2 linked regions of the Homo sapiens genome follow. The protein of the gene in region 2 interacts with the protein of the main gene of each other region in a biochemical or structural test. Each region holds a gene or a part of one and is shown on either strand. Other genes may lie near its edges.

The links. The genes of interacting proteins can lie anywhere in the genome.
Region 1: the proteins of STXBP5 (region 2) and SNAP23 form a complex in vitro, tested with the Homo sapiens proteins (one study listed by BioGRID).

Annotation. Positions count from the first base shown.
Region 1 is NC_000015.10:42,512,574-42,520,146, reverse strand, and holds part of SNAP23 (synaptosomal-associated protein 23), read right to left. Parts: intron 7,193-7,573; coding exon 7,151-7,192; intron 6,749-7,150; coding exon 6,700-6,748; intron 4,911-6,699; coding exon 4,793-4,910; intron 1-4,792. UniProt on the Homo sapiens protein: Essential component of the high affinity receptor for the general membrane fusion machinery and an important regulator of transport vesicle docking and fusion.
Region 2 is NC_000006.12:147,312,301-147,319,873, forward strand, and holds part of STXBP5 (syntaxin-binding protein 5), read left to right. Parts: intron 1-1,583; coding exon 1,584-1,731; intron 1,732-1,963; coding exon 1,964-2,031; intron 2,032-2,295; coding exon 2,296-2,336; intron 2,337-3,214; coding exon 3,215-3,435; intron 3,436-3,928; coding exon 3,929-4,107; intron 4,108-7,573. UniProt on the Homo sapiens protein: Plays a regulatory role in calcium-dependent exocytosis and neurotransmitter release. Inhibits membrane fusion between transport vesicles and the plasma membrane.

The DNA of each region.
Region 1 (7,573 bases), on a different chromosome or scaffold from region 2:
CCTGGGAGGCAGGGGTTGCAGTGAGCTGAGATCACACCACTGTACTCCAGCCTGGTGATACAGCAAGACTCTGTCTCAAAAAAAAAAAAAAAAAAAAAAAAGCAAGGGGGTTCTGCCTGGTTTTGAATCCCAGCTCTTCCACTACATAGTGTAGCCTGGATGTAAAATGATAATAATAAAAAACATCTATCTCATATTAAGGCTACTGTTTAAGGATTAAATTAACATGTTCAGAATAGTACCTTAAATTAATGCACAGGCCCACAACTGTTACCCCAATCCATTGGGGGCAAGATGTTTTGGACAGTACCACATAATTAAATACATTAATATTTCTGTAGTGACGTTGCGTGTGGTGGCTCATTTCTGTAATACCAGCACTTTGGGAGGCCAATGTGGGAGGATTGCTTGAGCTTAGGAGTTTGAGACCAGCCTGAGCAACATAGTGAGAACTCATCTCTACAAAAACTTTTTAAAGTCCAGGTACGGTGGCTCATGCCTGTAACCCCAGCACGTTGGGAGGCCGAGGTGGGTGGATCACTTGAGGTCAGGAGTTCAAGACCATCCTGGCCAACATGGCAAAACCCCGTCTCTACTAAAAATACATTAGTTAGCAAGGTGTTGGTGCATGCCTCTAATCCCAGCTACTTGGGTGGTTGAGGCATGAGAATCGATTGAACCCAGGAAGCGAAGGTTGCAGTGAGCCGAGATTGTACCACTGCACTCCAGTCTGGGTGACAACGTAAAACTCTGTCTCAAAAAAAAAAAAGAAAAAGAAAAGAAAAGAAACAGGGTCAGGCATGGTGGCTCATGCTTGTAATCCCAGCACTTTGGGAGGCCGAGGCAGGCGGATCACCTGAGGTCAGGAGTTCAAGACCAGCCTGGCCAACATGGTGAACCCCCATCTCTACTAAAAATACAAAAATTAGCTGGGCGTGGTGGCAGGCACCAGTAATCCCAGCTATTTGGGAGGCTGAGGCAGGAGAATCGGTTGAACCTAGGAGGCAGAGGTTGCAGTGAACTGAGACTGCATCACTGCACTCTAGCCTGGGCAACAGAGTGAGACTCCGTCTCAAAAAAAAAAAAAAAAAGAAGAAGAAACAAAAGTTTTTAAAAACAAACCAGGCATGGTGACATGCACCTGTAGTCCCAGCTACTCATGAGGCTGAGGTGGGGGGATCACTTGAACCTAGGAGGTCGAGGCTGCAGTGAGCCAAGATCATACCACTGTACTCCAACCTGGGTGACAGAGTGAGACCCTGACTCAAAAAGAGTATTTCTGTAGTGAAACCAATTAATATCTACAGCAAGTAATAAAGACTAAACATAGCTTCAGTTCAGGTTACATTTTATACCCTAATGAGTTGTGGCACCATTACAGCAAAAATAAAACAAAACTTTAGGAGTTTTTTAGATTTCTGAATGGCCAGCAGGGCTTAATGGCTCATGCCTGCAATCCCAGCACTTCTGGAGGCCAAGGTGGGTAGACTGCCTGAGCCCAAGGGTTCAAGACCAGCCTGGCCAACATGGTGAAACCTTGTCTCTACAAAAGATACAAAATTAGCTGGGTGTGGTGGCATGTGCCTGTAATCCCAGCTACTCAGGAGGCTGACGCTGGAGGATAGGTTGAGGCTGCAGTGAGCCATGACTGCCACTGCACTCCAGCCTGGGTAACAGAGCGAGACCCTGTCTCGAGAAAAAAAAAAAAAAAAAAGAGAAAGAAAAGAAAAAGTATTTCCAAATGGCAAATAAGGAACTCTGGACCTGACCTGGGTTGTTACTGCTACTGCTGGTATGAAGACTAGGCCTTACACATAGGACTAAGATCTCATGTCTACCTTTAAGAAGCTCATGTTATGGTTATTCATGTGACGAGCCTAACTGAAACACAGACTAGCAGATTAGAAAGATCAAGACACAGGCAAGAATGATAGGAACAGAGCTGAGGATAAGAGATATCATACTGGCCAAGGTCTCAATGGTGTAAGAAAGAAATAGGTGGAAGAAAGACAATTACAATCAGACATCTTTAACTGAGATAATACTTTCTTCTCTTAAGGGAACTGTTTTGTTACAGCAGCCCCTTGATTCCATCTCTCAAGAAGTGCCAGAAAAAAAAAAAGAAAGAAGTGCCAGTTGGGTGCAGTGGCTTAAGCCTGTAATCCCAGTGCTTTGGGAGGCTGAAGTGGGAGGATTTCTTGAGGCCAGGAGTTTGATACAAGCCTGGGCAACATAGCAAGACCCCTGTCTCTACAAAAAATTTCAAAAATTAGCTGGGCATGGTGGCACACACCTGTAATCCTAGCTACTTGGGAGGCTGATGTGGGTGGATTGCTTGAGCCCAGATGTTTGAGGCTACAGTGAGCTATGGTGGCACCACTGCATTCAAGCCCGGGAGACAGAGGGAGAGGCCATCTCTAAAAAAGTAATGCCTTCTCTTGATCCACTGAGAAAGGGTTCTACTGAGGTTAGAGGCTGAAGAATGCTGATTCAGGACCATACCCTACCTTGTTTCCCACCAGTCTTCAAGAAAAGCTTGCCTATGCTTGGCTGGGATACACAAAGAGACATAAAATTAATACTCTGTAGCTGCATTTCCCACTTTCTATGATATTAGACCATCTTAGGTCTAATTCAGTGCTCTTCCTATTTATCAACACGTGACTTAGAGCTGATCTTCCTCTAAGATTTTAGGGGAGACTTCTTTCTCCTTGTTCTCCTAACATCTGATCTCAAGAAAATTCATCTACTTCCTCTCTTCTGTACTCTTCCAAGAAGGTACATGGAACACAAGAGAAAGGTACAATTATGTTTGTAAAACATAGCTAAGAGTTTGTATCAAATAATCTGTACATTTTAACTTGTTTGCTTAAAGTAATCTGCTAAACTCTGATTGACAAGTCATAGTTATTAAAATATGAACTTTTGGCCGGGAGCAGTGGCTCACGCATGTAATCCCCGCACTTTGGGAGGCAGAGGCGGGCAGATCACCTGAGGTTAGGAGTTTGAGACCAGCCTGGCCAACACGGCGAAACCCTGTCTCTACTAAAAATATAAAAATTAGCTGAGTATGGTGGCACATATTTGTAATCCCAGCTACTTGGGAGGCTGAGGCAGGAGAATCACTTGAACCCGTGAGGTGGAAGTTGCAGTGAGCCGAGATCACACCACTGCACTCCAGCCTGGGTGACAGAGCGAGACTCCGTCTCAAAAAATACAGAACTTTCAGTTGGTCAACCAAGGTGTAAACAGGTCAACAGACTTGTGTTAGAATAGGAAGCCAATGGATAAGACTAGGAAGAACACTGTCAAACCTTTCCTCATGGCCAAAACAAACACTAAAGTTGACTGACAAGCAATTAATCTCTACTTTCTATAACAGAAATGGCATAAAAATGTTGTTTCATAAAAACACTTACTGAAAATATAAAAATATAACCGCTGTTGGTTTACAAGACCAGCTGAGAACTGGATGAAATATTAATGTCTAAGAACCTCTTTAAAAATGAATACATTGAGGCCGGGTGTGGTGGCTCACACCTGTAATCCCAGCACTTGAGGAGGTTAAGGCGGGCGGATCATGAGGTCAAGAGATCAAGACCATCCTGGCCAACATAGTGAAACCCCGTCTCTACTAAAAATACAAAAATTAGCTGGGTGTGGTGGCATGCGCCTGTAGTCCCAGCTACTCGGGAGGCTGAGGCAGGAGAAATCACTTGAACCCAGGAGACGGAGGTTGCAGTGAGCTGAGACTGCGCCACTGCATTCCAGCCTGGTAACAGAGTGAGACTCCGTCTCAAAAAAAAAAGGATACTTTGGCTGTGTGCAGTGGCTCATGCCTGTAATCCTAGCACTTTGGGAGGCCAAGGTGGGAGGATCTCTTGTGCCCAGGAAAGAGAGGCTGCAGTGAGCTGTGATCACGCCACTGCATTCCAGCCTCAGTAACAGAGACCCTGTCTCAGAAAAAAAACAAAACAAAACTTTCAGCAGTGAGTACAGTCATTCAATCTCCAGATACTGTCGTTTCTTTTTATACTCCACTCCAATCTGTCAACTCCTTAGTTTGGCATTCAAGTTCCTCTACTACCTACTTATATCTTACTTTCCACTTCTCATCTACATGAGTCACACAGCTCAGTTAAGTCAAGCTCCTTGTTAATCTTTATTTTGAACCTTTCATAGGAAATGCCCTCACTGTTCCTCCCTGTTCATCCAAATCCTTCTTATCACTCAAAGCCCAATCCACATCCTACCTCTTCTATAAGATGCTCTCCAACCCAACCTTTATCAGTTCTGTATACCTAGCCTTGGTCACTATCATATAATCTAACATTAGATTTAGCCTTGCTCACTATCATATAATCTAACATTAGATTTATGTATTTTTTATGTTTTGCCATTCTTTCCCAACTCTTCTACTCTTTTGGCCATCCCTCATGTGCCTACCACAAAATATATATTTTGTTAATACTCCTCCTTTGAAAGGAAAAGAAAATAACTCCATCCTGCTTTCCATCATCCAGATATACATTTCCCTATACTTCCTAACCTTTTCATGTATTACTACAAATTGAAATTGGACTTGATCCCAGGATTGGTCAAATGTAAGTCACAGTTTTCAGTGAACACGCAGTATTTACACAAAAAGCTTAATCTGCCTGAAGGAGAGACAACTTAGATTTATCTAATAGAGTTCCTCATTAAGCCCAGTCATACTTCTGACCTTAGCTGGTGGGAGAAGGTGGGGTACTCTCATTACTTATTTTGAAACCATCTTAATTTATCAACTCACCTATTACATGGGCAGACACAAAGGCCACAGCATTTGTTGAGTTCTGTTAAAGTCTTCTCTGTCTCTCTCATGTCCTTATTTATTTGGTCCAAGCCTTCTTCTATGCGGTTTAGTTGTTCTAAGAATAAGTTGTGAAGTTAACACTTTGTGTTCCATTCACAGTGTCAACCAGAAAATGCTATTATTATGGAACAGCAAACTTCAACCTTGAATCTACCAATAACTCCCCACAGTGAGTATGTCAGTGTCAAAAGGTATTAGAAGCGATTCAACATGATAACAATCTTTCACGTACTGATCCGGAGGCACCTAGCCTCTTGCTGTGGAAAAATTTGTTCTAAAAAGCTTGTATATGGCTGGGTATGGTGGCTCACGCCTGTGATCCCAGCACTTTGGGAGGCCGAGGTGGGCGATGACCTGAGGTCAGGAATTCAAGACCAGCCTGGCCAACATGGTGAAACCCCATCTCTACTAAAAATACAAAAATTAGCTGGGTGTGGTGATGGGTGCCGTAATCCTAGCTACCTGGGAGGCTGAGGCAGGAGAATTGCTTGAACCCGGCAGTTGGAGGTTGCAGTGAGCTGCGATTGCACCACTGAACTCCAGCCTGGATGACAGAGTGGGACTCCCGCTCGAAAAAAAAAAAAAAAAAAAGAATCTTGTATAGTAGGACCAAGGGACGGTTATTTAGAGATCATCCTTACAACCAAGTTAAGGGTACTTTGACGAGGTCAAATCCCCATCATTTCTATAATAGGTTCAAAACCTGAGGGCTATTATAAGAGTAATAAAAACTAGACCTGATTACTCAGGGCCAACTCAACTCAAGTGTTTCCAAGCATACCTGAATCTAGATCTGTTTTAGAACTTGATTTCTGAGGATGATGTAAGAATATCACAATGTCTGGCCAGACACGGTGGCTCACGCCTATAATCCCAGCACTTCGGGAGGCCGACGTGGGCGGATCAAGTGACTCTTGAAGTCAAGAGTTCGACATCAACCTGGCCAACATGGTGAAACCCTATCTCTACTAAAAACACAAAAAATTAGCTGGGTGTGGTGGTGGACACCTGTAATCCCAGCAACTCAGGAGGCTGAGCCAGGAGAATCACTTGAACGTGGGAGGTAGAGGATCCTGGAGTAAGCCACGATTGCACCACTGCACTCGAGCCTGGGTGACAGAGTAAGACTCCGACTCAAAAAATAAAAATTAAAAAAACAAAACAAAACAAAACAAAAGGCCCGGCACGGTGGCTCACACCTGTAATCCCAGCACTTTGGGAGGTCAAGGCGGGTGGATCACCTGAGGTTAGGAGTTCGAGACCAGCCTGGCCAACATGGTAAAACCCCGTCTCTACTAAAAATACAAAAACTTAGCCGGGTGTGGTGGTGGGCACCAGTAATCTCAGCTACTCAGGAAGCTGAGGCAGGAGAATCACTTGAACCCAGGAGGAGGAGGTTGCAGTGAGCCAAGATCACGCCATTGCACTCCAGCCTGGGCAAGAAGAGCGAAACTTCATCCCCCACCCCCAAAACTAGACAAAAATAGCGAAACTCCGTCCCCCACCCCAAAAAAAAAGAAAAACATAGTTGGGTGTGGTGGCAGGTGCCTGTAATCCCAGCTATGTTACTATCATAATGTCTAAGGCACATATAACCAATACACAAAATAAGCCATGCTGGCCTAACACATACTTGGTATATACAATTGGGCATTGTTGCCTGCCATCCCAAATAGACAGTGAACATGATATATAATTCAAATCAGAAGACAAGAAGTAAACATAACATTCTTATTTTACAAAGGGAAGGCTCTCCCAAAGGCTGAAATTTGTATGTGGCTAATTTGATAGGGCTTTTTGGCATCACAGTCAAATTAAGAATTTCTGCTAATAATTTAACTTACCCTTTTGTTCATCCAGCATAGTGATGGTCTTGATTCCTGCATCCTGAGACTAAGACAAGGGGGGAAAAGCTGATAGTACAACAAAACAAACCAAAAACAACAGAAACAAAACCTACAAGAGCAACACAGAATAATTTAGAAACCCAAGCTCTCAGAGGATTAGAGCTACAGACAGAACTAGTATTCTTAAACTAACACACTTTAACATAGCAGCCCCCAAAATAATTAAGTCACAAACTCATAGTGAATTCATCTTCCCTGTCATATTCCAATACTGTTAAAGGGAAAAACAGAAAATTCCCATTAGTGCATGGTTTGACATTTCAGCAACTGTTAATTTCAAATAATAAAGCATATTGATACATTACCCTTTAATACTAATTCCAGCCAGAAGTATTAGGATCGCTCCTATAAATTTCTATACTTAAGTTGATGACTAACATTTTCTTACCTCAATGGCTAAACCCAGGATTCTCCTCGTACTTTCCAGAGACTAGGAAAGAACACAGAATTTTAGCATTCCAAAATATGTAGAAAAAAAAATCTGATCACAGGCCAAATTCATGATGCTATTCTATCTTTAAAAATTGCCAGCTCAGGCCGGGCACAGTGGCTCATGCCTATAATCCCAGCACTTTGGGAGGCCGAGGCAGGAGGATTTCTTGAGTACCGGAGCTCAAGACCAGCCCAGACAACATAGTGAGACTGTTTCCATTAAAGGAAAAAACAAAAAGAATTGCCAGCCTATCCTTCCCTTTAAAACAAAACAATGGCCGGGTGTGGTGGTTCAAGCCTATAATCCCAGCACTTTGGGAGGCTGAGGTGGGCGGATCACGAGGTCAGAAGTTTGAGACCAGCCTGCCCAACAAGGTGA
Region 2 (7,573 bases):
TGCTTTTTGGATCATAGATGATAATGTTTACTTACAAATTATTTGAATGGAAGCACATTGTATTATTTATCTTTGGAGAAAGAATCATTAAGTATGGTTTTTAATTGAGTTTACTCATTCAGTATTGCAGTGTTTCTCAATCAAGGGTGATTTTTGCATTCCCTGCCCCCAGCCCCGCCCTTCTCCCACCCAGAGAATATATGGCGATCTCTGTGGAAACCTTTTCAGTGGGTTTGAGGGTGTTGCGACTGGCATCTAGTGGGTAGAAGACAGAGATGCTGCAAAACATCCACAGTGCATAGGACAGTTCCCTACAGTAGAACATTATCTCGTCCAAAATGTGAATAGTACTGAGGTTGGGCGACCCTGAATTAGGTGAACAGTATCATTTACCTGATGTTTAGGCAATTCTAAATTTACTTTAGTACCTGCTACTTTTACTAATCAATTGTGAGGAGTCTTTTCAAAATAACAAGATAATTTGAAAATATTATTTCTGTCCTAGAATAACTTATTCTTAATATGATTTTCTTTTATTTTTTTCCCTTAGGCAAGTTTTTCAAATAATTGAGACTTTTCACATGTGATCTGTACTGAGATACATTTAAGTCAAAGAAAATACTATGCAAGTAACCTGTGACTAGGCATTTTATTTAGCAAAAGTATCAGTTAAATGTATGGTAATAATAGAATCACTGAGCTAAGGAAATAATGTGTGTTATAAAGAGAAGAAAGTTGCTTGCCGTTTTGTCATTTTATGAATGCATGTTGTTTGTGTTTGGTCCTGGAGGTGGGAGTGGTGATAGTTGGGTTCATTTTGCAGTCTATAAGGGACTATTTGGAAATTTCTCTCTTCTGTTTTAAAAAATTGTCAGTAGTAGACTGATCTAATTTTTGCAAATTAGCCACTTTGCACTTTTTAAATTTTTTAGCCAGTTTCTGGTTTTCCAGACTATTCTCATTCTAAGGACTTTAAAATGAGAAAAGAAATATTTTATATTTAGATAGGATTCTACTTTAATTTCATGATTTTTAAAAGCATTTTTTGCTTTATTTAATAAAGTAACTTCATATCTAGAAAACATTTAAGGTAGAATTTTATTATGTATTATTACCAAAACAAGAAAAATATTCTGAATTAAATATTGGACTAGGTATCATGTTTATGGAGAGAAAAAGAATGGAACATTTGTTAGCTCTGCTGACATAAGGATGAGGTATGTGTTATTCCACCATTTGCTAGCAGGCATGCTTTTGACACATTATTCTCTGTAAGCCTTTGTTCTTCAGTAAAATGCCTATGTCGTAAGTTTGGTGCAAGAAGTAAATGAGATGTATATATTTAAAGCACTTAGTGTAGTGTATGGCATATGGCATGTAGTTGCAACTAGAGCCTTTCTGTTTACTATTCTAATTGAGCAATTTTCATTATAAAAGACTTCCATTTTTAAATATATTTACAAAAATTAAATCAATTTAATCTCTATGATAGAATGTATGTTTTTTAAAGTTTTTATTTTTGTATTAATCATATGGTATAATTCATTAAATTAATAAATACTTTTCTTTTTCTGTTGTTAAAGATATCCTATATTTGAAAATCCCTACCCTTTGAGTATACATGAGTCCCCTGTTACATGTTGCGAATATTTTGCGGATTGTCCTGTGGACCTTATTCCTGCACTTTATTCTGTTGGAGCTAGACAGAAACGTCAAGGTTACAGCAAAAAGGTATTGAACATGAGCTTCAGTATTTAATGTTATATTTCTTATTTATTCTATATTTATCACCTTGGAGTATTTGATAACATTATACCTTTTCTATGGAAAATAGGTTAAAAATTATTTTTGCAAGCAAAATATGTTTTTCACTGGATTATTTACACACACACACACACACACACACACACGGAGGTATGTAGTATGCTTGCAAGTTGCTTTATACAGTCATCTTTTTTTATAGGAATGGCCCATCAACGGAGGTAATTGGGGCTTGGGTGCTCAAAGTTACCCAGAAATAATTATTACAGGGTAAGTAAAAGTCTGTCTTCACCAAGTAAATCTATAATAGCTAAATATAATTGATTGAGACTACATGAATGTTAACTTACTGGACAGGTAGAGCTTTCCTTTATGTCGTAATATAATAAGAAATGTTATTCTTAAGAACCTGCCAGTTTACCCTGATTTTTTTTACCTTTTTACTCATTTTGTTGACTTTTTAATAGCAGTACCCATTTAAAGAAGGAAGAACTGTAATTTTATTCATCACATTCTTAACATTGCTTTTCTTAGGCATGCTGATGGGTCAGTTAAGTTCTGGGATGCTTCTGCAAGTAAGTATTTTTAATATTCATTATTTGTTATATGTTATACAATCACTGCTTTTATGCATCCTGTTTTATAATAATTGCATAACCAATATTTAATTTGAAATGTAGAGGTTATAAATTTAATGCTTGATTTATTAAATACATGAGTTTAGAATTTTTAATATAGTCTTAATATTAGTAAATCAAGAATAATTGGCAACACAAGTATTCAATTTTATTTTTTCCTTCAAAATTTCTTCAAACCTTATCTTCCTAAGTCAGAGTTAGGGGAAGTGGGAATGTGTTCCAAATCAACAGAAATTTCTAGAATAATTTTAATGCCTGACTCTAAATTTGTATCACTAACGTTCATGTTGTCTTTGCGAAATAAATCTGGTGGTTACATAGTAGCAAAAAAAGAAATAATGCCTTTAATGATTAATGTTTCAAAACACACATGGCAAGCATTCAATTGGAATCCAGTTAACTCAGGATATGTTGTGTTTCCTCATGTAGGAATGTTTAATTATATTGGTACTGTATCTTTTCTAGAGAAGATACATAGAAAATCATTTTAGGAAGCAAACTGTGTTGTTTATTATTTTCATGTATTTACACATTATTTTTCCAAAATGTTTTTATTACTCATTTTTTTAAGATTACCTAAAATCCATTGTGATAATAGATTTTTCTTCATGAATACAATGAGCACACTCTTGTTTGGTCAATGAGAACAAAGAATATATTATCTAAATGTTTAATAGACTAACGTAAATTGAGAAATGAAAATATGATGTAGTTAAATATGGACCATTTTCTATACATAGTATGAGTGATTAAATGTTACCTTATGTTTGATCATTTTATATTAAAGTATCTGACATATATTATCTTTTTTCCAGTAACTCTACAAGTATTATATAAGCTAAAGACATCTAAAGTATTTGAAAAGTCAAGAAATAAAGATGACAGGCCAAACACAGACATTGTAGATGAAGATCCATATGCCATTCAGATCATCTCCTGGTGTCCAGAAAGTAGAATGCTGTGCATCGCTGGAGTTTCAGCTCATGTCATTATTTATAGATTCAGCAAGCAGGAAGTAATCACAGAAGTCATTCCGGTAATAACGTCTTAGTTATTTTCATGGTCAAGTTATTTTCATCCACATTTTTAAATTTGTGGATGATTTGGAAGACTTTTTGCAGTCAGTTTTGTGCAGAACTTTTGAAAACACCTTAGTATTTATATTATTATCTCTCTTTTGTAAAAAACAGCATTTTTTGCATATATTTTCACTGATTATTTAAATCCTTAAGTATAGGATATGTTTCCTTTAAGGAAAGCTAATATGAATATGAGTATACTCTAATTTGATATTAACACGAGTACCATACATTCTAAAATCATAATGCACGTTTGTGTGTGTACTCCCTGAGTCAAGAACGTTTTCTTTCTTGCTAAATCCTTATTTTTTGAAATCTTGCTAAATTTTTACCTTTAAAAATCTTCTTGCCACTGAAGTTTATGTAAAGTGTGTGTGTATGTGTGTATAAATTGTGATAAAATGAGCAATAATTATTAGGAGTAAGTAAACTACCTTACTTTTACAACAGATGCTTGAAGTTCGATTATTATATGAGATAAATGATGTGGAAACTCCGGAGGGTGAGCAGCCACCACCTTTGCCAACACCCGTGGGAGGGTCCAACCCTCAGCCCATCCCTCCTCAGTCTCATCCATCTACCAGTAGCAGTTCATCTGATGGGCTTCGTGATAATGTACCTTGTTTAAAGTAAGTTATAAAAAACTACAGAGGAGTTTTGGATATTATCTTTTAATTTATATAAATTGTAAGCATTAGAGCTATGGTAACATTTTCTTTTGATATAGCAAAATGGCATAAGAATGGTTCTTCCTGTGTTTTGCTATGGTTAGTCCAACTCATTTTTCTATGACATCAAGAGGAATATGATTGCATTTCATGATATTATCCTTAAAATATTAAGGTTTAATCTCCAAACATTCTCGTAAAGCAGCAAGGATCTAACCTGTATATATCGCTCAGTCTTCTAAATCCATCAGTGTTTTTAGTCTTGATTTATATGTAGCTTGGATTTATGTTCCGACTGCTTTCTACAACTCTGAAAATTCTGTTTAAGTCTTTTAAGACTCAGTTGTTTTCTAATCATTTTCTTTTTCTGAATCTTCACTAGCACCACCGTATCTTTATTTAAAACGTTTTATTGTTGCATCCTAAATTTAAATATATCTTGCTTTTATACAGAGATAAATTGGATGAAGTTTTATTTTTTCTGTCCAATTTTTATTATTGAGTGGTTAAAATGTTTAAATGATAGAGGCAGAGAAATAAAACAATGAGTAAGAAGTTAAAATCATTGAAAAAGTACATGAAGACTATGTGATTAATAGTATATTTACAAAGAATTCAACTAGGATAATGACGGAAAGGTGGTTCTGGTAGCACTCAGAGAGATTCAGTAGATTGGTAGAGGGCAAAAGCCAGAGTGTACTAGGTTCAAGGTAGAGAGGGTAGTAAGTAAGAGAAATAATTTGCATTTATTAAAAGGACCAGGCTTTGCACTATTTTACTTTAATCTGCTTGAGTCTCTTCTACTGGTAGATAAATAATTTCTGGGAAGAATGTCTGTGTAATGAATAATGCACTCACACCAAAGATAAAACGGATAGATTTTTTTTATATTACAATCATTTTAAAAATACAGAGTTTTAGAAAATTATATGTTTACAAAAATTGAAGGTCATGTAGTCTAAGCTGGTGGCTCTCATTTGCATATGATTTTGTTCCCTAGGGGACATTTGGAGATGCTTTTAGTAGACACAACATGAGGAAGGGAGATGCTATTGACACTTAGTGGGTAGAGGCCAGGGATAATGTTAAATATTCTACAATGGACAAGGCAGTGCACACAACAAAGAATTACCAGCTCAAAACATCAGTAGTGCCAAGGATGAGAACCTCTGATCCAAACAGTATATACCCATTGAGGTTAAGCAGCTACATTTCTCAGAAAGGTATCAAGTTTTTCTTTCTCTCCTCTCCCTCTCTCATACCTGTACTAGAATATACACACTTATAACTGTAGTTCTAGCACATGTTTTAACTAGAATGAGACTTGGGAATACAGAATTCTACACTTTTCCCCTTTATTACTTCTTCAATACTACTTTATACTTAAAATTGTAAATGTTCCGTTAATGCCCTTGTTTCTGATTTCAATGTTTTTTTCCCAAGCCCTTTGTTACATTTAATTTTTATGACATACGTAGTACAATTTGTCTTTGGGGCATTTTTTGTAACGTATTTCTATATTTCTGAAATAGTGTTTTCAACTACTGAAGTGACATTTTAACAAAATAACAATTCCATATAAACATACATTATCTTCAACAGAATTAGAATGATTTATTTAATTTGTACTTCATAATTTCTGATGCCTCCAAGTTTTTTAGGCTTGTGGCCAGAGATCCAGCAGTATAAAACATTAAATTCTTTTCCTACCTGAAGAAAAAACACCATCAATGCACTGCTTTCTCATGACAAGATAGGTCAGAGGAAATAGTACTGACAGGAGAAGCAGTACTGTTTGGACCAGAGTGACAAGACCTCTTACCTTGGCTTTCTAGGTTAAAGTTAAAGGCCAGCCTGATAGGTGAGTCTTTGTCCTCTGTTCTTAGAAAGGCCTTTTTTTTCCAGTTTTTTTACTGACTGAAAGAGCAAGGATAATAGTTAAGGCAGCAACCAGCAGCAGCTGTTAAAACCAGCAAACCAAAATGCAGAGTACAACAGTACCCAAATCCATTTTAAAGGTAATACTGACTTCGTTCTGCAATTATGAGTTTTCTTTATTGTTCATGGACCTGAGATTATGGTATGGCCATCTTTCTTGTTTGGGAGGACTTTTCATACTTGTGATGGAATGTTATGGCACACTATTAATCTTTTGTAATTATTTAATGGAATGTCACTTAATATAAGAATTCCTTTTAAGCTGCTGGTTAGTCCCAGTAGACAGAGAGTCTCATTAGCCAATCCATTAATGATACATGTGAGGAGAGTCCTTTTTGTTGTTGGCATTAATTGTTATCTTTTGTGTATGGATACACTTTGCCAATCCTGGGATATACACGCAATAACATCTTAACAGTTTTTTCTGAATCCTAAAATAACTAATGACTGTGATTTGATGGTTTTTTTTCCTTTTGAATATCACTGTGGAACTCTAGGTATTTTTTATAGGCAATTTGTTTTAACTTACTGAATTTAATCAACTTAACGTGATTTTGTCACAGTTTTCTAGAGGGAGCTTCTTTTAAGTTGGTGTTTGTGTCTTCTTAACACCACCTCAGAACTTTGTGACCATCCTTAATTTCTGTCAAGATGTTCTAGACTTGCTTTGAATACTACTTGCCCTCACAGGGTAACAGACCAAAATATGATCTTTAGAAATGTTTGTAACATTATTTTTAATAAGCAGTATATTGTTATAGTAGACCACCTGGTGACAAGAGCTAAAAAAAATGGGGGGGTTGTTTTTTAAAAAACAGTCATTAAAACTCTTTTATTTTTCATTGAGTTTTTACATTACTATATAATGTAAATAAATAATTTTAAATCTCTTACCCAAACCACTCTTCTCCTATAATTTGATTAGCCTGGAATTATTCCATTTAATATTATTTATCTGTTAACAAAAGTAAGTCCAAAATTGTAGTATTAAAATTACCACTGATAGTAAAACACTAGATGAATAGTAAAATATAACATGACAGCTGTCCTTTAGACCTTTGAGCATATGACAAGTGATTCATAAGGCAATTACATTGTTTTGAGTTACTTTAATAATTTTTCTTCTGTTTTGGTTTTTTGTAGACTAACCTCATGTATAATAAAACTTTATAACAACTAACCTCATGTATAATAAAACTTTATAAATTCATTTTATCTTGAGACTTAATATTTTAAGGGACAGTTCTTTTTGGAAGTAGCGTTTGGTGTCAGATAGAGGTAAACTGCCCTGTCAGTATGTTTTATAAAATGGATGGAACTTTGAAGCAGTTCAGACTTTAAAGACACACATAGGAGATTCAGCCAGAGTCCTGTCACCTGTAATTGCTTACTAGAATCTACGAAGGAGCCCAGTAATTATACTTCTCTTTACCTATCTGGATTCTTTTTTTTTTTTTTTTTTTTTTTTTTTTAAAGAGACAGGGTCTCG